Linked DNA regions of Homo sapiens: all the other regions are linked to region 2. Evidence: fine-mapped expression QTL. A gene starts in region 2. Each other region holds a variant in brackets. All regions are shown on one strand. Distances are from middle to middle.

Region 1 (6,393 bases), 24 kb before region 2:
TTCCACGTGTCTGGGGAGGCCTCAGAATTATGGTGGGAGGAGAAAGGCACTTCTTACATGGCTGCCATCAAGAGAAAATGAGGAAGAAGGAAAAGCAGAAACCCTTGATAAATCCACCAGATCTCATGAGACTTATACACTATCATGAGAAAACCATGGGAAAGACCAGCCCTCATGATTCAATTACCTCCTCCTGGGTCCCTCCCACAACATGTGGGAATTCTGGGAGATACAATTCAACTTGAGATTTGGGTGGGGACACAGCCAAACCATATCACCCACTCTGAGAGGATGGTTGCCAGGCAGCACCCAATGACCCATGCCACTTGAACTAGAAGTGGCCTGCTAGTCCCATAACTTGGTTTTGAAGACTTCTTGTCCCCAGTTCTCAGAAGGGGGAGGTGGAAAGCTTCATTATGCTCTTGTTGAATCCTCAGGGTTTTTCCCTTTAGGTGCAGATGGCTTTACTGAGAAAAGCCCTTTTTTTCCAGCCTGGACTTGGACTCTGGCAGCAGTGGCAGTGGTGGTGCCATCACTCTTCTGGCACCAGACTTCCTTCAACAGCCATTTTATCACTCACCCTCCCAAACTCTGTGGTTTCCCAGAGCAGTAGATATGATTGACTCAGTAGCCAGGGACTTCTGGGAGCATGCAGATGTGTTTTTGCACAGGCTGTCAGGTGATGGGATAGGATCCACTGTGCAAGCCTGGATCTCAGGCTTCTTTGGGCTGGCTGACCAGGACCACAAAACCAGCTGAACTCCAGCTTTCAGCACCATTTATTGCCTTTGGCAATTCAAGTTTCCCCAAATCTTAAAGTCCTCATGCTACTGGAGTCACTCTTTCCTTTCAGAACCAAAGGCCATCACTTTGATTCTTTTGCCAAAAGAGAAACTTGTTTTTCTTAAGGCCACTGTATCCAGAACTCTTGTTTCACAAGGTATAGCCCACCACTTCTGTGTTGGGAACAGGCCCCCCAAAATCTGGCCATAAACTGGCCCCAAAACTGGCCATAAACAAAATCTCTGCAGCACTGTAACATGTTCATGATAACCATAACACCCACGCTGGAAGGTTGTGGGTTTACTGGAATGAGGGCAAGGAACACCTGGCCCACCCAGGGTGGAAAACCGCTTAAAGGCATTCTTAAGCCACAAACAATAGCATGAGCAATCTGTGCTTTAAGGGCATGTTCCTGCTGCAGATGACTAGCCAGACCCACCTCTTTATTTGGGCCCATGCCTTCCTTTCCCATAAAGGATACTTTTAGTTAATCGAATATCTATACAAACAATGCTAATGACTGGCTTGCTGTTAATAAATACGTGGTTAAATCTCTGTTCAGGGCTCTCAGCTCTGAAGGCTGTGAGACCCCTGATTTCCCACTTTACAATTCTGTTTCTGTGTGTGTGGGTTTAATTCCTCTAGTGCCGCTGGGTTAGGGTCTCCCCGACTGAGCTGGTCTCAGCAAGTGGTGTCCATCATGGGGACTCAAATCCAGGTCGAAGGGTCGCCGGAGCAACAGTTGGAGAATGTGGAACTAAGCTGGAGGACACCTGAGTACTCTTAAAGCAATCCCCGTGGTGAGTAAGAAGGGGAGCTTGGAAGCATCAGGGTAACAATGGGACAAGTGTGGGGTCTGGTTCATTCCACCTAGGAACTTTTTCACACTGATGAGGAGGAGGAAGGAGAGTATAACAAAGTAACAGAAGAGGTTACAGAGCAGTTTTATTTACCAGCTGAAGCTAAAGTGGCAAAGGAGGGAGAGGTTCATCCCTACCCTTCTGCACCCCCTCCTTATTATTTTGAAGAAAATGACCTTCCAGATCTTTCTTTTCCGGAGGACACTGGGCAAAAAGTAGTTGCCCCAGTGACTGTTCGAGCAGCACCTAGAGCGACTGCTCTTAGTTCTAGTCAGGCAGGAATTCAGCAAGCTAGATGAGAGAGTGATTTAGAGGCTTGGTGATTCCCTGTTGGAATACACCCCCCCAGATCAACAGGGAAATATTATAGCTACATTTGAGCCCTTTCCTTTTAAATTACTCAGAGTAGCCAGATCCACCCCTTTATTTCGGCCCATCCCTTTGTTTCCCATAAGGGATACTTTTAGTTAATCGAATGTCTATAGAAACAATGCTAATTAATGCTCTGAAGGCTGTGAGACCCCTGATTTCCCACTTTACACCTCTATATTTCTGTGTGTGTATGTTTAATTCCTCTAGCACTGCTGGGTTAGAGGTCTCCCTGACCGAGCTGGTCTCGGCATTTCTGCCAAAGAAAAGACTCCTCCTCTTTCAACATTAGCTGTAGGCACATCTGTATATATACAAACAAGAATAGAAGGGTGTGATGAGGAGAGGTGACGGGATTGTTGAAGTAGATATAGACACAGAGAGATACACTTTATATGCATTTAGAGATAGATGGAGAGGTATATATACATAGAGATATATTTTGTATGTATCTTAAAATTGGCCAATATCAGATTTTTTTAATGAACCAGAGAACTATGATCACATCACTCTTGAAAATATAGGCATGACTAGAAATACTAGACTGTCTCATCTCTGATGGCATATAAAAAATATCTGGGGGTGGCTGGGTGTGGTGGCTCACACCTGTAATCCCAAAACTTTGGGAGGCTGAGGCGGGCAGATCATGAGGTCAGGAGATCGAGAAACCCCGTCTCTACTAAAAATACAAAAAAAAATTAGCTGGGCGTGGTGGCAGGTGCCTGTAGTCCCAGCTACTCGGGAGGCGGAGGCAGGAGAATGGCGTCAACTCAGGAGGCAGAGCTTGCAGTGAGCCGAGATCGTGCCACTGCACTGCAGCCTGGGCAACAGCGCAAGACTCTGTCTCAGAAAAAAAATAAATAAATAAAAATAAAAAATATCTGGGGGTATAATTGAGAATAAAACAACTAACGGCATAGTCCTAATGCTGTCAAATAAATTTTTCAGCTTATTTAAGGGGAATCTGTGATGCTACTATTTGTGTGTGTGTGGGTGTGTGTCTGTCTGTCTGTGAAACACACAGAGATCCTAATTTCACAGTTAACGTAATCAGCATTATGTGGAAAAGTATCCTCTACTTGGAGTAATCCACCAGTAAAAAATGAGTTTAGAATTTTCTGGCACTTGTGCTCTGCATACACAAACCAAAGAAACCCTTTGGCATAATGCATCCAGAGTCATCCCAAGAAGTTCACTGCATGACACTGTGGTGTTATTCCAGACTGGCACCTTTGTAGATGCAAGCTATGAACTAGAGCTGGGTACCCTGTCCTTGCTCTCACATGTATATATGAAAGGAGACAATGCAAAGGACTAATGGAATTGTAAAAAAGATGGGACAGAGGGTATATTGATAAAATAACACAAGGAAATTAACATTTCGTTTTCTAAGACTTTTTTTTTTTTTTTTTTTTGAGACAGAGTCTTGCTCTGTCGCCTAGGCTGGAGTGCAGTGGCGGGATCCCGGCTCACTGCAAATTCTCCCTCCCAGGTTCAA[G/A]CAGTTCTCCTGCCTAAGCCTCCTGAGTAGCTGGGATTACAGGCACCCATCACTGCGCCTGGCTAATTTTTGTATTTTTAGTAGAGATGGGGTTTCACCATGTTGGCCAGGCTGGTCTTGAACTCCTGACATTGTGATTCACCTGCCTCGGCCTCCCAAAGTGCTGGGATTACAGATGTAAGCCACTGCGCCTGGCCTTCAAAGATATTTTTAATGTACCAGTGGAAACTCCCCTACAGCTTGAAGATCCATGATGTATCCTTGGAAGTTACAAAAATAGAAAAGAAAAAACACAAATGAAGAAACACAACCAAGAGGCTTGAACTTGATGTACAATTTATTTATAATAAAAAGGGAAGCTTCATGATATGCATGTTAATACTAACAAAAATGCTAACAAAGTGGGAATATTAATGTTCATAGACTTTGTTTAATGATTTCATGGAGGGGCTATTGTAACTTTTACTGTCATTTTCTTTCTGTTTCAATGTTTAAAGGGAAACTCACACATGATAACAGCTCAGTATTATGGATGGATATAAGCTCATTGAGTCAATCCTTGAGAGATGGAGAGTGAAGTAACTTCCAGTTCCCATTTGGAACTCTCAGAGCTAGGATAAAAACTCCTTGTCATGAATTCACAGGATGAGAAAATCTAGCATCCTCCCATGTTCTGCCCATTTGCCCGCCTTCAGGTTTGACTTTTGAACTTGCCAAAAGGGAGAAAAGTCTGGACAAGTCCCCTTTTCACCTTTTCTCATTACCTTGGTTTGGTTCCAGTTTGTACGTGGTACAGACTTCCAAGGAAGTGATGGTCATGGAGAGGAGATCATATTTGCCATGAAAATGTTTTTGTTATTCAGGATTCAGGGAAATCATTCACAGCCTGGTTCCCATGCTTTCTCTAGGGGCAATATGGAGCTTAGAAACAATTATCTAGGTCATGAAGTGAGGATGGAAGTTAGGTGCTATCCACAGGACTGAGTCAAAATGCTCCGTGTGTGTGTGTGTGTGTGTGTGTCTGTGTGTGTGTTTTGAGACAGAGTCTCACACTGTCGCCCAGGCTGGAGTGCAGTGGTGTGATCTCTGCTCACTGCAACCTCCGCCTCCTGGGTTCAAGTGATTCTCCTGCCTCAGCCTCCTGAGTAGCTGGGATTACAGGTGCCCACCACCATGCCTGGCTAATTTTTTGTATTTTTAGTAGAGACGGGGTTTCACTATGTTGGTCAGGCTGGTCTTGAACTCCTGACCTTGTGACCCGCCTGCCTTGGCCTCCCAAAGGTCTGGGATTACAGGTGTGAGCCACAGTGCCCAGCCCTCTTTGTGTTTTAAAGTGCCTGTGGCTTCTTCTTGCCTTAGTTTTGCTCTCCAATTTATTGTGTTTCTTGTTCCCCCATCCTTTGCATTATACTAACTTTGCATCCAAGAGAGGAGGCCTGAATTGGTGTAATAAGACTGATACCTTTCTCCTAAAGATGATGCCCTGGTGAGCTTTGCAGCATGTCAAACAGGGTCTGAAATTAATCCTCATTGAAAGGGAGTTTGGGAGGTGGAGGGTCATCTTCCTATGGATTCCAGAAGGAAAAAAGATGAACAAAGGCATAGAAAACCTATTAAACAAAATAATAGCTAAAAACTTCTTAAGTCTTGCAAGAGATATAGACATCCAGGTACATGAAGGTCAAACATTTCCAAATAGATTCAACCCAAAACGGTCAATTCCAAGGCTCATTATATTCAAACTATCAAATTCAAAGACAAAGAGGGAATCTAAAAACAGCAAGAGAAAAGCATAAAGTCACATATAAGAGCATTCCCGCAAATGAACAGGGACATTACAATTGATACCATAGAAATAGAAGAGGTCATTAAAGACTATTATGAGCAACTATATGCCAATAAATTGGAAAGCCTAATGGAAATGGAAAAATTTCTGGACACATACAACCACCAAGATTGAACCAAGAAGTAGTAGAAAATCTGGACAGACCAATTACGAGCTACAAGATTGAATCACTAATAAAAAGTGTCCCATCAAAGAAAAGCCAAGGACCTGATGGCTTTATTGCTGAATTATGCCAGATATTTAAGAAAGAACTAATACCAATTCTTCTCAAACTTTTCCAGAAAATTGAAGTGGAAGAAATTCTTTTATACTCATTCTATGATGACGTTACCCTCATACCAAAACATGAAAAGGGCACAACAAAAAAAGAAAACCATAGGCCAGTATTTCTGATGAACAGAGATGCAAAATTCCTCAAAATAAATACTAGCAAACAGAATTCAACAATACATTAAAAATATCATTCACCATAATCAATTGGGATTTATTGCAGGGATGGTTTGACATATGCAAACCAATCAACATGATACATAACACTTACAAAATGATGGACAAAAAGAAAATGACAGTCTCAATAGACACAGAAAAAGCATTTGATAAAATTTAATATCCTTTCATGATAAAAATCTTCAACAAACTAGATATGAAAGAAGCATACATGAATGCAATAAAGACTACATATAACAAACCCACAGGTAGCATTATGCTGAATAGGGAAAAGCTGAAGTATTTTCCTCTAGAAACTAGAACAAGACAAGGATGCCCACTCTCACCACTTTAATTCAACCCAGTATTGGATGATGTTCTAGGCAGAACAATTAGGTAAGAGAAATAATTAAAAGACATCCAAATTGGAAAGAAGGAAATCAAATTTTATGTGTTTGCAGATGACATGATCTTATAAATAGAAAAACCTAAAGAATTTACAAAAAAACTCTTAGAACTGATAAATTCAGTAAAGTTGTAGGATGCAAAATTAGCAGACAAAAATCAGCAGCATTTCCATATGCCAACAATGAACTACTTGAAAAAGAAAT
Region 2 (6,254 bases):
CTCCCCACGTGTGAGAAGAGGCTGGCTGTGCCCCTCCCAGCAGAGACACAGGCATGGTTCTGGGGTCTGAAGGGGAGGAGTGTGGTTCTGCACCAGTAGGCAGGTGACACTGGTGCCTGGGAATAAACATGGAAAGGGAGTCTTCTCCTACCCCCTCACTCAATGCTCCAGATAGACCGTTGGCTGTCCCTACTGGGAGCTGGCACAAGTGCACCTGGGGATGGCTTTTGAGGGCTCCTGGGGGCAGCTGCACTCCCATTGATGGGGTGCCTGCTGGCCAAGCCTTGCACGAAGGGCAGAGTTTATCCTCCTCCCCATATGGAGCAGCAGCATTCCCATAGCAGAATGCAGATGAATATCAGAGCTGCTGAGGGAAGAGGTTCTATCCCAAGGCCATTTTGGTGGTAGCCACAGGACGGGTGTTTTCTGCAGACCTCCATCACACTGCAGCCTGGAGATGAAGGACAATGTCTATCTGAACTGAAGGTCACAAGCTCCGGGACAAGGGTGTTTTAGGAAAGTGGATTGCCTTCCTGCCTTCCCAGGATGTGGAGCTGGTATACTCCTTCCCACTCTGGTGGAGACATCAGTGCCTTTCACCATGAGCTCCCATTTCCACTCCCATCAAGGCAGTTGCTTCTGCTCATAATTGGGGTTTCCCAGGGTGAGCTTGGTCGTTTAGTGCCCCTCAGTTTTGTGTCCCCCTCCAAAGCTTTGTGTTCCCTTCAGGGAATCAGGCCATCCACAGACCAGCCAACTGCCTGTGACAACAGAGATCCCCTCCCAGAAAACAAAGACCAAGTACCCATCAGCTTATGCCACAGCCAGCTTTTATTGGGATGCAGATTGAATTGCACAACCAAATAAAAAACAGGCTGACAGAGGGTATAGTGCTGGGGAATGAGATAAACTTTCAGAGACTTCCACATTCCCAGCCCCTCAGAAGGTAGTATTCCTGCTCATATGCCCAATACATTGCTACTACAATCAGCATAATAAAGCCACCACACAAAAGCTATCTATACAGCATAATAAAGCCACCACACAAAAGCTATCTATGACCAAGGAACTCATACAGAGCTGTGACCCACGGAAGGCACCCAAAATTGAAGCCAAATGATCACACACAACATACAGTCACACCTTCAAAGGGGGAAAAAATCCCATTCAAATGAGAGTAAGTTCAAAAGTAAGAAGTAACGGGTTCTCTAGATGAGAAGAAATCAGCATAAGCACTCTGGAAGTACGAAAAACCAGTATTTTGACATGCCCAAAGGATCACACCAGCTCCCTAGCAATGGATCCTAACCAATATAAAAATTTTGAAATAACAAATAAAGAATTTAAGATATGAGTTGTAAGGAAGCTCAATGAGATACAAGAGAAAGTTGAAAACTAACATAAGGAAATCAGAAAAATAATTCAGGATATTAATGAAAAATTTACAAAAGAGATAGAGATTAAAAAACAAAAACCAAATAGAACTTCTAGAAATAAAAATTTATTGAAGGAACTATAAAATATAGTTGAAACTTTTAGCAAAAGACTAGACCAAGCAGAAGAAATAATTTCAGAGCCTGAAGGCCAGTCATTTGAATTAACCTAGTCAGACAGAAATACAGAAAAAATAAATTTTTAAAAATGAACAAAGACTTTGAAAAATATAGAATTACATAAAGTTACCAAATATACAATATATAGACATTCCTGAGGGAGAAGAAAAAAAATTAAAAGCTTGGAAAACCTATTTGAGGGAATAATTCAGGAAAACTTCCCTGGTCTTGCTAGAGAATTAGACATCCAGATAGGAGATGCTCAGAGAACACCTGGAAGATGCTTTACAAGAGAAACCTCATAAAGGCATATCGTCATCAGACTATCCAAAGTCAATGTGAAGGAAAACATCCTAAAAGCAGCAAGAGAGAAATGTCTAATCTATACAGGAAAACCCAACAGACTAACAATGGACTTCTTAGCAGAAACCTTACAAGCCAGAAGAGATTGGGGTCTTATGTTTAATCTACTTAAACAAAAATCCTGCCAGCCAAGAATTTTGTATCCTGCTAAACTAAGCTGCATAAATGAAGGAGAAATAAAGTTTTTCCCATACAACAAATGCAAAGGGAATTTGTCACCACAAGACCAGCACTACAAGAAATGCTTAAAGTTCTAAACATGGAAATGAATGGACAATACTCCTCATCATAAAAGCACATTAAAGTGAAAAACTCACAGATTATATAAAGCAATTACATAATTGAGACTAAAAAGCAACTGGGTAACAATTATCATGACAGGAACAAAACATCACATATCAATATTAACCTTGATAATAAATGGAGTAAATGTTCCACTTAAAAGATACAGATTGGTGCTGGGTATGATGGCTTACACTTGTAATCTCAGAACTTCGGTAGGCTGAGGCAGGAGAATTGCTTGAGACCAGGAGTTTGAGACCAGCGTGGGCAACAGAGTGAGACCCCATCTCTGTAAAAAATTAAAAAGAGAAATTAGCCAGGTGTGATCATGCTCACCTGTAAAGAGGCTGAGGCAGGACAATCACTTGAGCCCAGGAGTTTGAGGCTGCAGTGAGCTATAAATGCATTATGGCACTCTAGCCTGGGTGACAGAGTGAGACTGTCTCAAAAAAAAAAAAAATACATACAGACTAAAAGATTGGATAAAAGTAGCATCAGCTCAGGGGTCCTAACTAGTTACAAGAACAGTGCACAAGACAAACACCAGCTAAGATGGCAGGGAGAACAAGCCTGAACAAGGCAAGGCAGAGGTCTGCTAAGGGAAATCCATCCCACAAAAGACAAGCAAGGCAGGGGCTCTCTGAGGCCTAGAGCAGCATGCAAAAGAGCAACTCTTTCCAGGTGGCAGCTCCCTAGCTGCTGCCCCCACATGCTGCTGCCTCTGCAGCCACTCTACCTGCCCCACCCCTGCCCAGGTATTCCAAGCAGCTCTCAGCTCTTTCCCAATATCTGGGCAGTGCTGTTGAGACAAAGGAAGAGGAGAAGTGGACACAGCAGGTCTTGGCTCTTAAGATCTGCAGTTGTGAGTTCCTTTTGCAATCGCTGTAGGTCATTGTGCAACCTGCTGGTCTCTGGACTCCTGATTTCTAGACATCTATAAAATACAGACACTGATGATGCCACTTAATTCACAGAGCTGCAGTGAGAAAGGTGCAGATGAGTTCAAGGCCTGATAGTGTTCTGCAAACTATAGTGATGGATGTGCATAGTATTGTGAATATCAGTGGCAGGTTTCCAGAACGCAGGTGGGGATAAGAGTGAGTGAGTCAATAAAGAAGAAAATTGCCCCACTTCTTGAAGGGAGTTTTTGGGGCTGGGCAGCTCAGGGTACAGGGCAGGCATAAATAGTGAGTGCCTGCCAAGCAAAGGCTAGTTTGCTTGGAGCTCCTGGGGCCTAACAAAAAGAAACCTGTAAGTGTCTCTGTTCTTGCCTTCTTTTTATTTTCTCCACATCCTATAAATATCCCTCTGCCGACCTGGGCAATTCAACCTATTGGTGTGGAGGGTCTGTGTAGCTGTTCTGGTCTAGGAGGCATGGGCGCAGGAGGTGGGGAGCACAGGAGGTCTTATGGTGCTCTTCTGCCCCTTATTCAGTGGCCTCAGCCCAGGGGAGGATTTGCTTTCTGAGCTGGGGGTGCACAGGGTGGAAGAGTGGGTGTGACACTATCTAGACCTGGGATGCCACAGTGTGGAAGCTTCAGGTGGAAAAATGCAATGCTAATTTATCTCTAGGCTCTTTTCTGCACTGATTTCTTCAGAAAGGACAGTGGAAGAGAGACAAACCCAGGCACTCACAGGCTGGGGTTCTAAACCCATCCTGGTGCCAACAGCCTGTGGAAAAGCAGGGCAAGCCTGTTTTTCTCATAGCTTCAGGTCTTTACTTTAAAAAATATACTTACTGGAGTAGGTCTCTGATTTTCCAATCCATGTTCAGAGGAGATGGCCTTTTCAATGAAATTGTACTCTGAAAGCTTAGCATAAACTGGGCACTGCAGGGGTTGAGGGGGACCACAACTCTGCCCACTCCATCTGCTGCCCCAGCTAAGATGCCTCATCTGAATCCTGGGCCTGAAAACCCGGGTCTGCCCTCTCCAAGTGTCCTTCAAGCCACAGTGGCTGCTGGTGCCTTCTGTGCCATCTTGAGCCTGTAGACAGAATGCCTATTGCCTTTCATTCTTCCCCAGAATCAGACACAGGGCCTGAGGGGTGAGGGAGCTGCGGGGCACAGAACAATGCCCTTGCTCTGGCCTGGGTCTGGCCCTTGCTGCTCATGATTGAGCCTCTGCCAGAACAGGTGTAACAAGGTAGCCGCTGCTGGCAGTGAGCTCACCCAGGTGTTTCTAGAGACTACCAGGATACCCAAGGAAGTGGTGATTTCAAAATTGAAAGAGGCTAGTGAGAAATAGGGGTCATCCACAGCCCAGAATCACCAGCAGTCAAAGAAGAAGGCACTCCTCTGGGCAGGAAGCCCCCCACTTGCCACCACCCCAGTTGGCCTGGTGACCCCTTTCTTTGCACAAGTCCCTCTGGCTTTGTTCCTAGCCTCTGCGAATCTGATCAGCTCTTTTCACTCTCATAACTTTACGGTTTCTCATTGAGAGAAAAGATACCCAAAACAGTTAATGTCCCAGGTCCTGCTCTTATCCTGGTCTCAGTTCCTGACCATCTTAGATAGTAAATGGGTGCCCTGTTGGGTAGTTGCTCTTGCTTACCCACAACACTAGCTTTCTGCCTGACTGAGCCTACCTGGCATGTCCTCTTTCCATATAAGACTTCTTTTTTTTTCTGAGATGGAGTCTCACTCTCTTGCCCAGGCTGGAGTGCAGTGGCACGATCTCGGCTCACTGCACCCTCCACCTCCCGGGTTCAAGAGATTCTCCTGCCTCAGCCTCCCGAGTAGCTGGGATTACAGCACGCACCACCACATCTGGCTAATTTTTTATACTTTTAGTAGAGATGGGGTTTTGCCATGTTGGCCAGGCTGGTCTCGAACTCCTGACTTCAAGTGATCTGCCCGCCTCGGCCTCCCAAAGTGCTGGGGTTACAGGCATGAGCGACCGTGCCCAGACTCCACATACTTCTTTTCCAAACCCTCTCAGGTCTTAGAAGAACTCTAGGTGTCTCAGGATTTCTCCTACTGCTAGTTTAGTGTCTCTGAAAACTTTCACCTGGGTTCCCTCTGGGACTTTTCTCTAGAGACAGCACCTGCTCGAGGAATGGCAAATTGCCAGGCAAATGTGCACCACACTCCCAGCCTGCGCTCAGGAAGGACATTACTAAGCACTCAGGACTCTGGCTGCATTTTCAGACCAGCACTATCAGCACCAGTGCTAGTCCATGCAAGGCAGCAAGAGAGAAGAAACAGGCTTGCCTTGTCTGAGCTAAGCCAGTTGCCTCAGTGGTACAGACAGGGAGATGGTCTAGGGAGTGGGCGGGGGGTGTCCTGCCCAGAGGCACTCAATGAACCCTTCTTGATGTGACAGATGGCCCCAGTGAGGAATGCTACATCCTAGCCACTGTGCCAAACTTAGTGCCCAAGGGAAGGCACAAGAAGGGAAGACATGAGCACCTGGGAATGGGGGATGCTGCTGTCAACCTATGTCAGAGTTCCAGCTGGGTAACTCATGCTCTCCATCCAGACCTTGTGCCCTCCTTGTCCTTAAACTGCTTTTGGATTCCTGCTGCTCTAGGCCCCATAGCAGAGGACAGAAGGAGGGAATGGGGGCTTCTTGTCACCTCTAGAAGCTGAGCCAAGCCCTAAACCATGTCCATGAAGCATAAGCATGTCTTTTCTCTTTCTGTTCACCTCTCCAGGCCATGCTGCTCTTCCTCCTCTCTGCACTGGTCCTGCTCACACAGCCCCTGGGCTACCTGGAAGCAGAAATGAAGACCTACTCCCACAGAACAATGCCCAGTGCTTGCACCCTGGTCATGTGTAGCTCAGTGGAGAGTGGCCTGCCTGGTCGCGATGGACGGGATGGGAGAGAGGGCCCTCGGGGCGAGAAGGGGGACCCAGGTAGGGTGGGGCCCTGGGCTTATCCTGCTGGGGAGGAATGGTCATTGGAACTGTAACTAGCCCAGCAACTCTGGGTACTTTGTTATGGAAGTCTGGAGACGTGTTTCTTCCTCCCAAGAAGGCGAGTTCCACACTGCTCCACCAGCTGGCAAACAAGTGGCTGTGCTGAGCCCCCATGTGCCTCCTCCAGCACCCAACTG
Region 3 (6,393 bases), 54 kb before region 2:
TCAAAGTGCTGGGATTACAGGCATGAGCCACCATGCCCAGCCAGCATTGAACACCTTTAAGTCTTGTTATGTGGATGGTAGAATGTGAGTGAGAAGGTGGGTGAGGTCCTGGGTCCTGTTGGGTTTTTGTTCAAGGCTGAAGAGACTTGAAGAGGCTCCGTACCCAGACCTGGAGGTTCAAGGCATTTGTACTCTCCTGGGAGGCCCTGGCAGATCAGTAAGCCATTCTGCGGCTCCAGGATTCATCCTGCACTGAGTGGTTTTGTAGCAGGAGCGGAAAGGTGTCCCACAGTGAGCACCCGGTGGAGGTCAAAGTTCCTTCTGAGGCTTGGGATCTCCAGCGTCCTGCATCCCTTCCAGAAAGACCTCTGTACCCTCTCGGAAGACCCCCAGGCCCCCAAGCCTGCCCCATCTTTCTCTGAACTCGGGTCTGAGAAACATGAAAGGAAGAGTCAAGGAGAAGTTTGCCCTTCTTGCAGACCAGTCCTGGTCCAGTTTTTGTCAGTTTTGAAGAAGCACATGGTGACCATGTGGGGACTTTGCCTCTGGAACTGAAATCACTCTTTAGCCTCTGGAGGGGAAATTGTGGATTCAGTAAGTAGTGGCATAGTCATTTTTTTAAAAATTGGGATATAATTTGTATACTATAAAATTTGCCATTTTAAATGCTATATATTTAAATTACTATACAATTCAACATCTTTAAGTATATTCTAAAGGTTGTACAATCATTACCACTATCTAAACTCAGAACATATTCTTTACTCCAAAAATAAATCCTGTACCTATTAGCAGCCACTCCACATCCACATTCCTCTCCTTCCCTGGCAACAGCACTCAAGCCATCCTCCCTGGCTTTCTTTCATGTTCTGTAGAGACAAGGTCTTGCTATGTTGCCCAGACTGGTCTCGAACTCCTGGACTCAAGATATCCCTCTGCCTTGACCTCCCAAAGTGTGGGGATTACAGGCATGGGCTACTGTACCCGGCCTTGGACATTTCATATAAATGGAATGACACAATATGTGGCCTTTTGTTTTTGGCTTCATTCACTTAGCTTGCTATTTTCAATGGTCATCCATATTGTATTGTACTTTATTCCTTTTTAAAAATTTTTAATTATACTTTAAGTTCTGGGACACATGTGCAGGACCTGCAGGTTTGTTACATAGGTATACATGTGCCATGGTTGTTTGCTGCACCCATCAACCCGTCATCTGTATTAGGTATTTCTCCTGATGCTATCCCTCCCCATGTCAACCTCCCCCAATGTACTTTATTCCTTTTAATGTTCTTTTTGTTCATCCATTCCTCAGTTGATGAATATTTGGGTTATTTTCACCTTTTGGCTATTATGAATAATGCTACTATGAAGACTAGTGTACAAGCTTTTGTGTCATCATAGGTTTACAGTTTGCTTTTTTTTTTTTTTTTTTGAGACAGAGTCTTGCTCTATCTTGCCCAGGCTGGAGTGCAGTGATGTGATCTCGGCTCATTGCAGCCTCAGCCTCCCGGGTTCAAGCGATTCTCCTGCCTCAGCCTCCTGAGTAGCTGGGATTACAGGCGCCTGGCACAACACCTGGCTAATTTTGTATTTTTAATAGAAATGAGATTTCACCATGTTGGCCAGGCTGGTCTCGAACTCCTGACCTCAGGTGATCTGCCCGCCTCAGCCTCCCAAAGTGCTGGGATTACAGGCATGAGCCACCATGCCCAGCTTGTTTAGTTTTCTTAGGTATGTATCTACTAGGGGAAGTGCTGGGTTATACGGTAACTTTATATTTAACCTTTTTGAGGAACTCAAAATTGTTTTCCACCTTCAGCTTCACCATTCTATATTCTCACCAGAGATGTATAAGCACTTCAGTTTCTTTATATCCTTGCCAACACATTGTTTTAAAAAAAACTTATAGTCACTCTAGTGAGTGGTGCCATGGTGTCATTTGTGGGTTTTTTTTTTTTTGTTTTTTTTTTGAGATGGGGTCTTGCTGTGTTAGCCAGGTTAGTCTTGAACTCCTGACCTCAAGCAATCCTCCTGCCTCGGCTAGGAATACAAGTGTGAGCCACTGTGCCAGGCCTCATTTTGTGGTTTTGGTGTGCATTTTCTTAGTGTTTAATGATGTTGACTATCTTTTAATGTGCTTATTGGCTTTTGTGTTTCTTATTTCCAGAAAAAATTTTCATTTTGACCATTTTAATTTAATTAATTAATTAATTTAGACAGAGTCTCGCTCTGTTGCCCAGGCTGGAGTGCAGTGACACAAACTCGGCTCACTGCAACCTCCACCTCCTGGTTCAAATGACTCTCATGTCTTGGCCTCCCAAATAGCTGGGATTACAGGCATGTGCCACCATGCCCAGCTAATTTTTGTATTTTTTTAGTAGAGACAGGGTTTCACCATGTTGGCCAGGCTGGTCTCAAACTCCTGACCTCAAGTGATCCACCCACCTCAGCCTCCCAAAATGCTGGGATTACACACGCATGAGCCACTGGGTCTGGCCTGTCATTTTGCCCATTTTTAAATTGCGCTGTTTGTGTTTTCATTGTTGAGTTTTAACCATTCTTTGTATATTCTGCATATTAAATCCATAACAGATAAATGATTTATCAATATTTTCTCCCGTACCATGTGATGACTTTTAACTTTCTTGACAGTGTTCTTTGATGCACAATAGTTTTTAATTCTGATGAAGCCAATTTATCTAGTTTTTGTTTCGTTACTTCTGCTTTAGGTATCATGTCTAAGAAACTGTTGCCTAATCTAAGGTCAGGTAAGCTTACTTCTGATGGTTTCATAGTTTTGACTTGTATGCTTAGGCCTTCCTTCCCTTTTGAATTAATTTTTGTATGTAACTTGAGATAGATATTCAACTTCATTCTTTTCCTTGTGGATAGCCAGTTGTTCTAATACCTTTTCTTGTAAAGACTATACTTTTCCCATTGAATTTGTCTTGGCATTGGTGTTGAACTCAATGGATCATAGATGTATGGGTTTATTTCTGGACTCTAAATTCTATTCAGCTGATTTATAAGTTTTGTCTTATGTCAGTACCACACTTTCTTTCTTTCTTTCTTTTTTTTTTTTTTTTTTTTTTTGAGACAGAGTCTCGCTGTGTCACCCAAGCTGGAGTGCAGTGGCACAATCTTGGCTCACTGCAACCTCCACCTCCCGGGTTCAAGCCATTCTCCTGCCTCAGCCTCCTGCATACCTGGGACTACAGGCCCCTGCCACCACACCTGGCTAATTTTTTGTATTTTTTTTAGTAGAGACGGGGTTTCACTGTGTTAGCGAGGATGGTCT[C/T]GATCTCCTGACCTCGTGATCTGCCCGCCTCGGCCTCCCAAAGTGCTGGGATTAGAAGCGTGAGCCATGCGCCCAGCCCACACTTTCTTGATTGTTATATCTTTGTAGTAAGTTTTGAATTTGGGAAGCGTAAGTCCTCCAATATTGTACTTCTTTTTCGAGATTAATTTGGCTATTCTGGGTCCATTGCATTTCTAAATGAATCTTAGGTTCAGCTTGTAAATTTCTGCAAAAAGGCTGTTGAAATTTTGATAGGAAGTGAATTGAATCTGTTGATCTCTTTTGGGAGTATTAGTTGATCTCTTTTTGGGAGTTTAAGTCTTCCAATCCATAAACATGGGATATTTCTCCATTTATTTAGATCTTTTATATTTTCTTTTAATAACATTTTGAAGTTTTCAGTGTGCATATGTTGAATCTTTTTGTTAAATATATTTCTAAGTATTTTATTCTTTTTGATGATATTGTGTATAGGTTTATTTTATTTTCATTTTTGAATTGTTCATTGCCAGTATACAGAAATAAAACTGATTGTTTATTTCTTTTTTTAAAATAGAGACAGGGTTTCACCATGTTGCCCAGGCTGGTCTCAAACTCCTGGACTCAAGCAATCTGCCCACCCGGGCCTCCCAAAATGCTGGGATTACAGGAGTCAGCTGCCACACCTGGCCTGATTTTTAAAATTTTTGATCTTGCATTCTACAACCTCATTTACTTGCTATAACAGTCTTTAGATTCCTTTGGATTTTCTCTATGAGAGGTCATGTCATCTGAAAATTTTCACTTTTTCCTTTCCAATATAACACCTTTACTTTCATATTCTTGCCCAATTGCAGTTAGCAATTTTGCTTCTCTTACATCAGCTAGGTTCTGGTAAAATCCCTGTTGGGAAGGCTCTGGTGAAATAGGTTCTTTCGAGGGCATCCCTTAAGAAGAAGAGAATGCTCTGAGCATATTTCATAATGTCTACTTTTCCTCTCATCCTACATAAAGCACAAGGAGAATTTTCTCTGATCTTTACTTTGAGAACCTGGTAGGACTCTTGGGACTAAAGCCAACAAAGGCTGGACTATCCTGGCATTTTTAACTCTCAAGCCTGGCCATACTGTGCTTCCAGCAACTCTTGATTGCAGTGCAGCTTTTCCTATTCTGCCAATGGTTTCTGCTAGTCAGTTTCTGCTCCTTGTTTTGATTCTCTGCATCTTCCTGTCTGTCTTCAATTTAAAGGGCAGCAGTTTGCCTGTGACCTCACTTCTCTCATAAATCTAGGAAGAGTTATTGATTTTCAGTTTAACTGGTTTTTTTTTTATGTTTTGTGGATGGGAGTGATGACCTCCAAGCATCTTACATGCCAGATCAGAAACTGGAAATCCAATAAATATATTATGGCAACATTTAAAAAACTAAAAATTTGTGCAAAAATTCACGATGAACAAGATATCGAAGTTTTAAATAATATCAGGATCTAACTCTAACTTGCACAAGTGAAGCCACTTCACTGGTAAATCATATCCTGGCACTGTTTTTCATAAAACTTTATTTATAAACAACAAATATCCATTGTGTTGGCTATAGTTTGTCAATTTCATTCTTTATAAACTGTTAGATTAAAATACTTTTTATCTTCATTACTGGGTCTCTTTCTGCATTCCAGGTGAGTTTTCACTTGCCTTACCTAGTTCTGGACCTTCCCTCTGATTCCATTTCATACAAAAGTCAGCCCTACAATGGCTTCATGGCCCTTTATTTTTATTTATTTATTTTATTTTTATTATTATTTTTGAGATGAAGTCTTGCTCTGTTGCCCAGGCTGGAGTGCAGTGACGCTATCTCAGCTCACTGCAACTCTGTTCCCGGGTTCGAGTGATTCTCCTGCCTCAGCCTCCCCAGTAGCTGGGATTACAGGCACGTGCCAGTAGGCCAAGCTAATTTTTGTATTTTTAGTAGAGATGGCTTTTTGCCATGTCAGTCAGGCTGAGGTTGAACTCCCGACCTCAGGTGATCCACCACCTCGGCCTCCCAAGGTGCTGGGATTTCAGGCATGAGCCACCATGCTTGGCCCCATGGCCCTTCATGATTTGACCTCCATCTACTCTGTAACCTCGCTTCCTCCTTCCCTGCATGCACTCGCTCTACTCCACTCATAGTCTCTGCCTTGCTATTTCTATTTCTGGGGCATGCCTATCTTGCTCAGGGCTTTTACGTCAGTGCTTGACACTTTGGGCCTGATCCATACCTATTCATTCTAATTAATCCAGTCAACAAATATTCATTGTGTGCTTACTTTTGTAAGGCATTATTTTAGGCTCTGAGACAATATCAGTAAACAAGATAGACAAAATCCAACAATCTCTGGAGCTTTCAATTTAGTGTGTTTGGGAAGGGGTGAGAGGGTCAGAAAGTAATCATAAGTGAAATAGAAATTATTACTGAGAAAATATAGCATTGTGAAAAAAGGAAATAAAATAAGGGGGATTAGGAATTTTTGGAGAATTGCAGCTTTAAATAGGTAGATGAAAGTAAGCCTATCTGAAAAGGCCACCTGGCAAAGGCTGAGAGGGGGATGAAGGAGTGATTCAAGGGATATGGGGATCATGAGAGGTCAGGAAGCTTTGCAGGCAGAGGTTGGAATGCCTTGAGGTGAGAGGGAGCCTGAGATGTTTAAGAAAAAGCAAGGAGGCCAATACCACTAGATGGTGCCTATGTGAGGCGGAGGGGTGGACAGTAGAAAATGATGTCAGAGAGGAAAGGCAGGAGGAGTACAGGTTAGATAAGACATGTAGGCTATTGAAAATAAACTTTATTGAAATATAGTGCACATACCCAAAAGACCATGTATCATACATAGTCAGTTTAATAAATTGTCACAAAACAACCAAACTCATGGAACAAACATTCAGATAAAGAAAGATAATATTACCTGACTTCAGGAGCCTACTTTTGGTTCCCTTTAAGGCACTGATACCCTTCCCCCAGTAGCTCATATCCTTACTTTTAACCACAGCATAGCTGGGCATGGTGGCTCACGCCTGTAATCCCAGCACTTTGGGAGGCCGAGGCGGGTGGATCACTTGAGGTCAGGAGTTCAAGAC
Region 4 (6,393 bases), 410 kb after region 2:
GGGGTTTCACAGGATTTGGGACAGTCAGTACTACTATGGTTTGAGTTTGTCCCCAACAAAACTCATGTTGAACTTTGATCCCCAATGTGGCAGTGTTGGGAGGTGTGCCTGGTGGGAGGTGTTTGGGTCACAGAGACAGATCCCTCATGAATGACTTGGTGCACTCCAGCTCTCTCATGAGACTGGATTTAGTTCTTGTGGGAATGTTCCTGCAGGAATGGGTTGTTGTAAAGCCAGGATGCCCCTTGGGTTTTTTCTCTTCCCACGTGTCCACTCACCATTGAGATTTTCCACCATGTTATGACATAGCACAAAAAGCCCCCACCAGAATCTGAGCAGATGCTAACACCATACTTTTTGAACTTCCCAGCCTGCAGAACTGTGAGCCAAATAAACCTCTTTTCTTTATAAATTCCCCAGCCTCAGGTATTCTTCTATAGCAACACTTATTGGATTAAGACAAGTACTAAAATAAGAAAAATCTCTGCCAAACCAGAATGAGTTAGTCGTCCTATTCTAGCATGTGCAAGCAACGTCCATTTGCATGGCTTTGCTTAATAATTTGCAAGCCTGACCTATATTCACAGCTCACAGGCTGAGAACATAGTCATCTGTTGTAATTTATATAATCTTGTGACAACACCTGCCAAAAATCATATTAAATGGCTTGTGACTTTTCTTGATCCTCTTCCAGCCTTTGACACAATATATAAGGAAAAATATGAACTATCCTGCTTGTAATTTCCAGTGGGTAAAACAAAGATGTGCCCTGGATCCTTTTATTTTTAACTTGAAACCATATTGAGATAGCCCATGAGTTTGCTTTCCTACTGACCCACATAACTGTTAGGCACAGTGCAGGCCACTGACCAGCATCAGCTCCAAAGGATCAGTATCTGTGCCCTGCAGGTTGTTGCATATGGTAGGGCCCCGCCACCCTGCTCTGCAGTGGAGCACAGAAGGTCAAGCATTCTCTCAGATGCAAATAACCTGATGTGGGTATCATGGACTAGGAGTAGTTTTAGTAGACAATGAATACTGCTATCTAATGACATCCAGAAACAAGGGCTACCAAATCTGGATCTGAAATAATCATTTTAATGGAAATCCCCCAAATTTAGGGAGATTTATAGGAAATAATGATAAACAATAAATCATTTAGTTACTTTGGGTGTACATTTCACAACCAGTTTTAACAGGGCTTATTGCTCAAAATTAGATGGGCCGCAGGTATGTGTGTGTGTGCACATGCTTATGTGTATGTGTAGCCAAACAAGATATATAGTTACATGCCTGCTTTACATTTTTTCTGGGCTATTTTTATTGCCGTTGCATTTTATGATGTGGAATTGTAGGGAATCAGTTACCCATTCATTGCCCTGTTAGGGAACTCTCAAATTTCCTCCTGAAGAGAATCTTGGCTCTGCCTGCAGGGACTCCCTTGATGCACTTTGGAGGGGATGTGGGTTGGCCTTCTCTTCAGAAACACGTTGACTTTCTTCTTTCTTTCTCTTTCTTTCTTTCTTTCTTTCTTCTTTCTTTCTTTCTTCTTTCTTTCTTTCTTTTCTTTCTTTCCTTCTTTCTCTCTCTCTTTTTCTTTTTTCTTTTCTTTCCATGTGTGAGGCAAAGATTTAGTTCTTCATTTCTTGCATTTGAAGTACTGTTCGATGACATCCTTGGCCTGAGACTCCTTCCATAGTCCTTAACTACTGCACAACTGCAACCAACCACTTTACAGGGTTTCCCCTCTCTGTCAATTGTACAGGGGCCTTCCCATTCCCCTAGTTTCTTGTTGTCATCACCCTTGATTAGGTTGATTTGGTGTTCAGCACAATGGGCCTTCACCAACTTGACATACATAGGCTTATCACAGTTGGATGCAAGCACACAAAGGTGGGCTTGGCGCTTGGCGGCAGCAGGGAAAGAGAGAAATGTTCTTTCTGGTGCATGAGTTTTCATAAGAGGATCTATGTCAAGCCACGGCTCAGTTTGTTATTAAGGTATATGGCTCGTCTCTTAATTGGCAATGGAAAGTTCCAGCATTCCAAGTAGAATCTCAACCTCAGAGCCACACTATACTTTTCAAAAGCTTGGCTAAGAGAAATGCTACTCATGGATAAGTGCCTGCAGAGTGCATGCTGTATTCAATCCTCTGGACAAATATTCTTAAATCTATTACCAATTTAGCCAGAGCCATGAACCTGTGAGCTTGACTGCTTCCCACTGACTCCTTGAAGAATGACTTTTAATGCTTTGTGCTTTGGTTGAGGGACATGATACACATTATACAAAGCATGGTTTTGAACACTGATCCCCATCTGTTGCAGGGATATTGTTGAGGATGTGGCTTCCCTATGAAGCCTCTCTATGAACACCTAGAGGAGAATATGCTCTTTGGTCCTCAGTATCTGGAATAGTTGTGCTTTTTCTTAGAAACCTGCAAATATTCTGGATCTCACAATGTGTCATATATCCCTCTCCCCATCAGCAGCTAGGGTCTTAGAGCCAAACCAGTGAACAACCATGAGTCCACACAAAGAGGGCTAATCACTCGGGTTGGCACAGTCAGTGAGGTGGCATCAGAGCCTGGGGTATAGGCAAGATGCCGTAGTGGCTCGATCTGCCATGGGCAGATCCAGATGTTGAGTGTCAGGGAACCCTCTCCCTAGAGGAGGGTTGGCGATGAACATGGATCCTCCAAACCACCCTAATGCAGGTGCCTGTAGGCCATCACTGCCCCTGAGGGTTAGGGCTGGGGTTAGGGTTAGGTACGTTAGCGTGATGACATGGCACACCTGGTCCTATACCTACAC[C/T]CTTCTCCTCACCAGCTCTGTATCCTTTATTAACACACATGGATGGCATTGTTGGGAGCAGCAGGAACTGCATGTGAATCAAATGCCATGTGCTTTCCATTGTTTCACCCATCACAGTCCCCAGGGGTAGGTATATTCACACCCCAAAATTCACTTCTATTATGTGAGCCAGGGAAGCAGTATAATAGACATTAGCAGTGTGGGCTCTGGAGTCAGGGAACCAGTTTCAAATCCTGCCTCCACCTCTCACTAACTGAGAGGCCTTGGGTGAGACATTTAGTCTCTTTATCTATAAAACAGGAACAAAACACTGCTTACAAACACAGCTGTGACAGGAAACACATTACATAACCACTGTGAACCATTTAGCACAGAGCTTGACCCAGAAATAAATGCTACAAAGGCATGTATTGTGGTGGTGAAGACTTCGGTTTTTTGGAATTGGATACACCTGGGTTCAAATTCCAGCTCTTCCAGGGTCAACTGTGAAAACTTCGGCAAGTTTCCAACTTCATTAATCCTCATCTTTTACAACTGCAAAATGGGGAAAATAGTGCATACAAAACTCATGGCCCACTGCTTGAGATGAACTGTGTGCTCCATAAGTGATAGCTTTAGCCACTTGTTATTTTACTGCTATACCAGAGAGAATGCAGCTCAAGCTAAACAGGCAAGAGGGAATGTCTAAGGTGATTCTGCAGAGCTGCCAACCCTATGCGGCAACTGACCTCCATCTCCAACACATGGTAGTAACAGCTGCTTAAAAGGATTGTGTTCTATGTTCTAGGCAATGAGCTGAGAGTTTTTATATTTTTGTTTTACCTGGGACTAGGTATGGTGGATCTCAATATTTTGGGGGCCACAAGTACTGTATCAGACTGGTTTCAATCAAGAGATAGAAACCACAAGTGGTTTATGCAATGGAAGTTTAATATAAAGAATTATTCAGCTATGATAAAAGAGCAACTATATGATATAAAGAGAACCTTATAGGGCTACTCTCCCTACAGGTGGAGAAGAGTACCCAAGAAGGACAAGCTTGGAATGGGGCCCCCTCCCCAGGCTGGAGATCAGACATTGTCGGAGAAGGTATCATTGCAGCCCCCTACATGGCAGAGAGATTTGCTGGGTTGCATGGTCTAGAGCTGGTTGCAATTATTGGACAAGCAGGAAACAAACCTCCACAGCCCATGCGAGCCACACTGCTGGGTTGAGTGTATGAGCATGTAGAATGATTGGGTCTCCAGTGCGGACAGAAGGCATGGATCGCGTGGTGCCTGTGTTGGGAGGATACTAAGAGGGCGATCACCATGCCAGGACAAGACTAGTTGCCTGGGACCTTCTGGGCACGTGACTGGAGCAGAGTACCACTGGATCTCCTCACACCAGCCAGACCCAGGAAGAGAAACTCCTTTCACCTGCACTGTTCTCTCAGCACCCTCCGCTGAGAAAGCTTCACGTTATGCTTAGTGTACAGGAGAAATGCTCATGGGAATCCTGTCCATTATCACAGAGCAGGTATTAGTGGGTGAATATGGAGCTGAGAAGTAATAAGTTGTAACTGGTATAGATATCATGGGGGCAATTGTAGAACGCCGTGAACACATATGCATGGGTCCATGTATTCATGAGTGTGCACATATGTGTAATTATTCATACAATTCATGGTGGATACTACTTCGAGGGTGTTCACAGACCCCAGGTAGAGAGCGCCTGGAGGGAAAATTATCCAAGGCAGGCCCATTCACAGTTCCAGGGCAGCCAAAAGAAAGCCTCCGTTAAGCACCAGAAGTCTCCGGGGCAGGTGGGGCCAGGCAGCATGAAAGAATTGGCCGCAAGAGTTCCAAACCCTGTCCCAATTATGGAGGGTGACTTTTCTTTGTCCTCCTTCTCCATTCCCTTCCATATTGCTCATGCATCCAAAGGGAGACCTGAAGACTCTCTAGCAGGGCAAGGCCATTTTCTTTTGGCATTTTTCTCTCCCCAAAGTCTAGCTGATTATCAGCTTAGTCACACAGCAGGCTATGTGCTGTGAACAACAGGCATCCTGGGTTATTTTACAAACTCATGGATAGTCATTTTGAAACCACCTTTGCAAAATTATGACTGAAACAGTGAAAGAGAGCTAACTTAACCAGCTCCATCTTGTTTCTAACCTCCAAGCTGTCTTTGTTCATTCCTGGGCGTAGGCTGAACTAACTTTGGGAGAAACTTAGTTTGTAGTTATAGTTTAAACAAAGATGGTAACAGCCCTTTCCCAATGCAGACCTCCTTCTTGTCTGGGGACTAGACTAACATTAGCCACAGGATTAGAAATTACGGTTTAGGAGTCACGCAGCTGGAGGCTACAAGATTCTGACCCTCCCTAAACTGCTTCTAAGATCAGTGCTTGAGACATGTTGCAGACCCCGCACTTGCTGGATCAGCTGACGCCACACAGATGGATAAACTGCCTCGTCTGATCTTGTGGCCCCCACCCGGGAACTGACGAAGCGCAAGAAGACAGCTTCGACTCCCTGTGATTTCATCCCTGACCAACCAGCACTCCTGGCTCACTGGCTTCCCCCTACCAAGTTATGCTTAAAAATTCTGCTCCCCGAATTCTCGAGGAGACTGATTTGAGTGATAATAAAACTCCAGTCTCCCGCACAGCCGGCTCTGCGTGAATTACTCTTCTTCTATTGCAATTCCCCTGTCTTGATCAATCGGCTCTGTCGAGGCAGCAGGCAAGGTGAACCCCTTGGGTGGTTACAATTTTGCTCCTTCAACAAAACTCCAAGTTCCTCTTTGATAGTGGCAAACACCAGTTGCCGTATTTTCTACTGTTACTGGCACAAAAAGTCCCTGTTCACAGCCCTGCTGGACGTAAGGGCCCAGGTGCTAAAAAGTTACCCCCCACCTCACCCCAGCCTCATCAGCGGGACTGGATACTGGCAGTGGGCAGAGGAATGAAATTTATTTATTTATTTTTCTTATTTATTTTTGAGATGGAGTTTCGCTCTTGTCACCCAGGCTGAAGTACAGTGGCACCATCTCAGCTCACTGCAACCTCCGCCTCCTGGGTTCAAGCAATTCTCCTACCTCAGCCTCCTGAGTAGCTCGGATTGCAGGCTCTCCTGCCGCCACACCCAGCTAATTTTTGTATTTTTAGTAGAGATGAGGTTTCACCATGTAGGTCAGGCTGGTCTTGAACTCCTGACCTCAGGTGACCAACCTGCCTCGGCCTCCCAAAGTGCTGGGATTACAGGCAGGAGCCACCAAGCCCGGTCTTTTTTTTTTTTTTTTTTTTTTTTAACATGTCATGCTTTTATTGTACTGTACTGTACTGTACTGTACTGTACTGTACTGTACTGTACTGTATTGTATTGTATTGTATTGTATTGTATTGTATTGTATTGTATTGTATTTTGAAACAGAGTCTCACTGTGTTGCCCAGGCTGGAGTGCAGTGGAGTGATCTTGGCTCACTGAAACCTCCGCCTCCCAGAGTCAAGCAATTCTCTTGCCTCAGGCTCCCGAGTAGCTAGAACTACAGGCCATGCCCAGCTAATTTTTGTATTTTTAGTAGAGATGGGGTTTCA
Region 5 (6,393 bases), 35 kb before region 2:
ATCTTATTATACTTGCTGTGTCTTAAAAAGTTGTTATACTTATTATTTTTGATAGGTTCATTTTTTAGTATTCCTACTCAAGGCATTAGTATTTTACACACTACAATTACAGTGTTATAATATTCTATATTTATCTATGTACTTATTGTTACCAGTGAGTTTTGTATCTTCAGATTCTTTTTCTTTTCTTTTTTTTTGAGATGGAGTCTTGTTCTGTCACCCAAGCTGTAATGCAGTGGCATGATCTCAGCTCACTGGAACCTTTGCCTCCTGGGTTCAAGTGATTCTCCTGACTCAGCCTCATGAGTAGATGGGATTACAGTTGCCTGCCACCACACCTGGCTAATTTTTGTAGTTTTAGTAGAGACGGACTTTCACCCGGCTGGCCTTGAACTCCTGACCTTGTGATCCACCCGCCTCAGCCTCCCAAAGGGCTGTGATTATAGGCGTGAGCCACTGCGCCCAGCCAGATGTCTTATTGCTTGTTAACATCCTTTCTTTTTTCAGATCGAAGAACTCCCTTTAACATTTCCTGTAGGATAAGTCTGGTGTTGATAAAATCCCTAAGATTTTATTTGTCTGGGAAAGTATTTCTCCTTCATGTTTGAAGGATATTTTCACTGGATTTAATATTGTAGAATACAAGTTTTTCCTCCAGCACTTTACATATATAATGCCACTCTCTCTTGGCCTGTAAGGTTTCCACTGAGAAATCTACTGCCAGATGTGTTGCGCCTTTATATGTTATCTTTTTCTTATATCTTGCTGCTTTTAGGATCCTTTCTTCATCTTTGACATTTGGAAATCTGATTATTAAATATCTTGAGGTAGTCTTATTTGGGTTAAATCTGCTTGGTATCCCATAAGTTTCTTTTTCTTTTTTTCTTTTTTTTAATTCAGGTGTCCTTTTACTGCCGGCAACCGAGAGATGGCTAGAGCTCAAAATTCTCTCGGCCCTGAAGAAGGGGCTAGATTTCTTTTTATACTGTGATCTAAATAGGGGATGGGGAGCCTAGCTGAAGCAATTTTTACGGAAGCAGAACAGGCAAAAAGTTTAAAAAAATTAATGGTTACAGAGATAGTTACAGAAATATAAACAGTTCCAGGTGCAGGGGCTTAAACTATCACAAAGAGATAAATGCAGGGGCTTGGGTACCATCCACTGAGCACATCCCCAGCAGCTGCTGGTACAGCTTGCCTCAATATCTTATCAGTAAGTGCATTCCTGGATGTGCTTGGAGTCAGCTTGCACTAGTTATTCCCCTAAGGGAGGGGGGATAAGGGGGCTGCAAGTGAAGAAGCTAAAATGGAGTCTGTCCGGCTCTCTCAGCTAAGAGAGAGTCACTCAGGTTAAAACAGGGTAGGGTATCACAGATAGACAGTTGATATAATTGATAGATGATAGATTACTTTTATGGGTCCTCCCCTGTCCATTAAGACTGAAACTGTGTGTGATTATGTTTCCTTGAATCATTACCACTTTTTTCTTCCTAAGCGTGTTACCTTCCTATTTCACCATAGAAACTTTCAATATTTTGCTCAGAAACTCAGGGCTTTTGGGTACTGCCCTCCCACTGTCTAGTTTTTGTGCTTTCTTTTGGGGTCCTCTCTGGAGGCCACAACCATCTTTGGGGCATGCCCAGGAGAGAAGGAGGTGGATCTAGTTCCCTTAGAATGGCTTTGGTGATGCTCTTTGCTGCAGACAGACTACAATCTGCTCCAACATCCCTTCCCCCTTTCTTTTTTCTTTGCCTCCCCTCCTCTGCCACATCTCTATTCCTCCCAGCCTTTCTCCACTCTTCTGTACGCCCATCATTCTCCTCCACTTCCAAGGTCACAGGCATCACCATGTAAGCCTCCCATCCCAGATAAGCAGCCTCCAAGATGACCCATGATCCCCACCTCCTTGTATGTACATCGTTGTGTAGGACCCTTCTGCACTGAGCAGGGCTGAGCTGTGTTAGCACTAGGATATATGGGAATGACAAGGTGGCATATGACTTCCAAAGTTAAGGTCACTTTGCTGTCTCGGATCACTAAGGCAGCTATCATGTTGTGAGGAGGCTCAAGTTGTCTTGTGGTGGGTCCCTGTGGCAAGGAACTGAGCTCTCCTGCTGACAGCCAGCAGTGCCTTCCCAACCATTAGAGTGAGTCACCTTAGAAGCAAATTCTCCAGCTCCAGTGTATCCTTTAGATAACTGCCACTCTGGTCATCATCTTGTCTACAACCTCATGAGAAACCTCAGCCAGAACCACCCAGCTAAGTTGCCTCTGAATTCCTGAGACACAGAAACTGTGAGATAATAAATGTTTACTGTTTTAAGACTCTAAATTTGGAGTAATTTGCTATTCAGCCATAGAAACTAACACTCATTTCATCATGCCTGACACTGATATCGCTACAGTTTCACATCCCTGTGGCTAAAGCTCTCCAAGGGCTCATCATTAATTTCAGGATAAAATCCAAATCCCTTAACATAGAATAGGTCTTTTATGAACTGCCTCCTGCATGCCTCTCAGCCCCATCCGGCCCACTCTGCCTTTCCTCCTTGCATCACTCCAGCTACTCTGAAACACACTGCACCTTCCTAAATGTGGACAGATAAAATTGCCAGACTTTTCATAGGATGCCCAGTGAAATTTGAATTTCAGATAAATAACAAATAATTTGTGT[G/C]GTTATACAATATTTGGGACATACTTATACTAAAAACATTGCATGACACATACTTATTCTTAAAAGTTATTATTTTATCTGAAATTCACATTTAATAGGGCATCCTGTACTTTCCGTTGCTAAATCTGGCAACGCTACAGATGCGAGCTGCTCACTTTCACCTCCTGCTCAGTCCCCAGCTGGATCACTACAGCTCCCCCTGACTAGCTCCCTGCCCTGCAAGACTTGGCCCAGACATCAGTGCCCCTAGAAAGCCTAGACTAACTTCTCTGCCCTATACACACCTAGGATGAGTCAGACGTGCCTGCTGCAGGCTCCCGCCCACCCGTCACACCTCTCTCACACCACACACTTTGCAAGTATTTGTTTACCTGTCTCCAGTACTAGACTCTGAGATTCTTGAGGTCAGGAACTGTCTTACTCACTGCGACGTGGCTTCAGTGCCAAAAACATAGTATAATTAGTTTATACTTACTGAAGATTTACTCTAAGGTAGTCGCTGTTCTAAGATGTTCTGCATATATCAACTTATTGAATTTTCATATCAAGCCAAAGGAGGTACTATTAACATCCCACTCTTACTGGGGAGGAATCTGAGACAGAAATAGGTTTTGTGACTTCTCCAGTGTCATTTGAAAATGGCAGGGAAGTTGGGGTTCAAAGCCAGGAGTCTGACTCCAGAGCCCACCCTCTAACAAACTAGACACATTGCCTCTTTACAGTGCATGATAAGTGCTTGCCAAATGCATGTTAGAACTGACTATCCAGCTAAGTTTCTCCAAACTAGATAACTGCCTTTAAGCAGGGACCTTGCTGCCTGTGCCCCTCCCAGCTCTCTCTCCAGTCACCACTACTGAGCACAATGCATGGTGCCTTCTTCACAAGCAAATACCTTCTCCCTTCTTCAAATCCTGACTACAGATCCAGGGTAGCACCATCTACCACACCTCCCTAAAAAAGAATGGTTATAGGCAGGGAGCAGCGGCTCACGCCTGTAATCCCAGCACTTTGGAAGGCCGAGGCGGGTGGATCACCTGAGGTCAGGAGTTTGAGACCAGCCTGGGCAACATGGCGAAACCCTATCTCTACTAAAAATACAAAAAATTATACGGGCATGGTGGCACGTGCCTGTAATCCCAGCTACTCAGGAGGCTGAGGCAGGAGAATCCCTTGAATCTGGGAGGCGAAGGTTGCAGTGAGCCGAGATCGCGCCACTGCACTCCAGCCTGGGTGTCAGAGTGAAACCCCATCTCATATACATATATATATATAGTGGTTACAGCATATGCCTTAGAAATATAAGCCAAGAGAGCACTGTGATTAATACTGTCAGTTCTAGAGTAAAATTCCCTGGGCTTAGATCCTAACTGTACTGCTTATTAGCTGTATGGTTTTGGATGAGGCCCTGAGACTTAGATTCTTCATCTAAGAAATGGAGATGTAGCATCTGGAACACAGCATGTACTCAGTAAATGTCAGCTGTCACCATTGTCATTGCCAATCCACTCAGCCCACGGGCAGGTATGTATGGTCCTGGCAAAAGTTGTTAAGAGGAGGCCGCAGGCGCTGGGGAGCATGCGGAGAGGCTGCGTGGAGCTGCGTGCTCCCGGGGCTGCATGCCCAGTGAAGCGCATGAAGGGCGAGCGGTGATGGGTTCTGCGCCAGTGGGGCTGGGAGAGTGTGGGGGGCTGTAGGTGGAGCTGCGCGCAATGTGGGAACTGCACGTGCGGGCTTGGGGACTGCGCACATCGGGGGGCTGCAGGCGTGGGGGAGGGTTTGGGGGGCTGTGCATGGGGCTGCCCTCACGGAAGGCTGCACGCTCGGGGACGCGCGGAGGCTGGGGTGCTGCGCGCCGCTGGAGAGCACGTTGGGGGACATGCAGGGACTGCCCGGGCGAAATGGTTTGACTGCACGCCCTCCACCCCACATTTCACAGTCGCCATGACGACTGGGAGGTCCGCAGCCGCTGCGGTGGCCGGTACAAGTAGTTGAGGCTGCGAGGCCAGTGAGGCCTTTCCAGACCTCGCCCTACTGGGCTGGGCTGCGTGGGAAATTGACCCAGCTCCACCAGAACAGGAACTATGAGAAAATAGTTGGGCAAACGAGGAGTAAGCTCAAAAGCAGCGGCTCCACAGCCATTTCAATCTTCCCGCCCCAGCCAGTTGAAGCTGAGGGGCCTCCCAAGCCAGGGAGCCAGAGATGGAGGAGGAGGTGGAAGAGTCCGGGCTGCCTCTGTAGCTTTGGACCCTAGGCAGAGGGAACCTGCCAGGGGGCGGGAGGAGGTGCGCAATCTGAGACCTCCAAATGGCTTGCAGCTGGACGTGATTGCCAAGACCCTTCTGGGCTGCTTCCAGTTGTTACATAATTTCCTGGCGCAGCTCCAGGAAAAGGTGCACAAACTGCAGGCGCCTCAGTTCTCCAGGAAGACCACTCTGGGCTTTGGTGTGGAGAGGGCAGGAGAGCCCTAGGAGGGAGCCGCATGGCGCTTTTCTTGAGTCTTGAAGGAGATCAGTTTAATAAGCAAGGGTTTGTGGGTGCCCAGTAGCAAATAATAGCAAGGTCCGAGCTCTGGAAAAGCGTGGCAAGAATCGCCAAGCTCCATTAGTTCTTGTTTTAAAACATTTTCAGGGTTTTCTGACAGTAGTCACCCCTATGTCACAATAAGGAAATGGTATCTGAATCAGGGCAGCTAATTATCATACTTGGTAAAAATGATTAGCTGGCTCTTGAAGAACAGACATGTTTCTCAGCACCTCCAAACATGGGCGGCAAGAGGTGAGCTGGAAGGTGCTGATCACCAGGCATTGCATGGCGGGGCTCCCGCCCACCGGCCTGGACCGGCCGCGCCACCTTCCTCAGCGCTGCTGTGCACCGAGTCCTGTAAGCCCTATAGGCCGCTGCTACTGTTCGGCATGCTGAAGGAGGACTGCGCTGCGCGGGCCCCCAAAGCCACGCTCCCCACGGCCCCGCCGCGGGAGCGGCTGCGCGGGGCTGCCAGGGCCTTCGCAGCAGCGCCGCCCGAGGCGCTGGGCTGGTGCCCACTGGGCACCTGAGCCGGGAACCGCCCCGCGGTGGCCCGAGCGCCCCCGCCGCCGCCCGCGGTCCCATTGGCTCCTCCGTTGCTACTGGAAGGTAGATCCGAGCCCCAGTACGTGCGCGTGCGGCTCCTCTGCTTGGTGCCCATGTCCGCCCTGCCCCGCCAGGCGCGCCCGGAGAGCCAGGAGGGCGGGAGCGAGCGCGGGAGCTAGAGGGCAGGGCCAAGGCGCAGCAGCCGGCCCAGAGAGACCCCCCGCACGTCCAGGGCCGCCGCCCCAGGGGAAGTCGGCGCCCGGCGCGCTCTTCCTGGGGAGGTGGGCGAGGCTGGCGGCCTGACGCGGGCACGGGAGACAAGGAGACGAGGAGACGTGGAGAGGAAGGGGTCTCGGCTGCGGGCACACCTCGCTGGCTCTAGCAGGAAGAGGCGGCTCAGGTGTCCGTGTGGCTGCCTCTGGTTTAGGTTCTGGTGCGCCATGAAGGCCACTGCCGGTCTGGGCGCGCTGGGCGCCCCGGGCGTCGGGCACCGCCTCCTCTGGGGCTGTGGCTGCTACCGCAGCCATCCTCCGGCTCCCAGGGCTGCTGGCGGCTGAGTGGGAGGCGCCTGCCCAGACTCCGCCGGCGCCACCTTCCCTCTTCCCACAGCCACCCAGTTGTTTTTAACGGAGAAAGAGGAAAAACGGGCG

Alleles and levels. Alleles are on the strand shown, and positions count from the first base shown. SD is a standard deviation of normalised expression in the study named. Not every link is listed here.
For the expression in cerebellar hemisphere of the gene that starts at base 3,410 in region 2, C is the low allele of the variant in region 3 and T is the other (moderate effect, 0.48 SD a copy in GTEx).

What was found. PIP is the estimated chance that this variant, and not a neighbour inherited with it, causes the effect.
Region 1: its variant is the best candidate, but not a certain one, in a credible set for the expression of SFTPD in esophagus mucosa (GTEx, PIP 0.86).
Region 3: its variant is the best candidate, but not a certain one, in a credible set for the expression of SFTPD in cerebellar hemisphere (GTEx, PIP 0.66).
Region 4: its variant is the best candidate, but not a certain one, in a credible set for the expression of SFTPD in whole blood (TOPMed, PIP 0.71).
Region 5: its variant is the best candidate, but not a certain one, in a credible set for the expression of SFTPD in pancreas (GTEx, PIP 0.56).

Annotation. Positions count from the first base shown.
Region 1 is chr10:79,970,652-79,977,044 of GRCh38, reverse strand. It overlaps a transcript of SFTPD not described here. Among named protein-coding and RNA genes, the nearest start is that of SFTPD, 25 kb to the right of the region's middle. The variant G/A (reference allele first, on the strand shown) is at 3,511.
Region 2 is chr10:79,946,261-79,952,514 of GRCh38, reverse strand. SFTPD (surfactant protein D) reads left to right here and starts at 3,410. Exons shown (of 8, transcript NM_003019.5): 1 at 3,410-3,449; 2 at 5,853-6,054. The coding sequence starts at 5,856.
Region 3 is chr10:79,999,793-80,006,185 of GRCh38, reverse strand. No RefSeq gene overlaps it. Among named protein-coding and RNA genes, the nearest start is that of SFTPD, 54 kb to the right of the region's middle. The variant C/T (reference allele first, on the strand shown) is at 3,302.
Region 4 is chr10:79,539,603-79,545,995 of GRCh38, reverse strand. It overlaps the pseudogene RPS12P18. Among named protein-coding and RNA genes, the nearest start is that of SFTPA2, 18 kb to the left of the region's middle. The variant C/T (reference allele first, on the strand shown) is at 2,814.
Region 5 is chr10:79,981,631-79,988,023 of GRCh38, reverse strand. It overlaps a transcript of SFTPD not described here, the pseudogene ZNRF2P3 and the pseudogene DPY19L2P5. Among named protein-coding and RNA genes, the nearest start is that of SFTPD, 36 kb to the right of the region's middle. The variant G/C (reference allele first, on the strand shown) is at 2,675.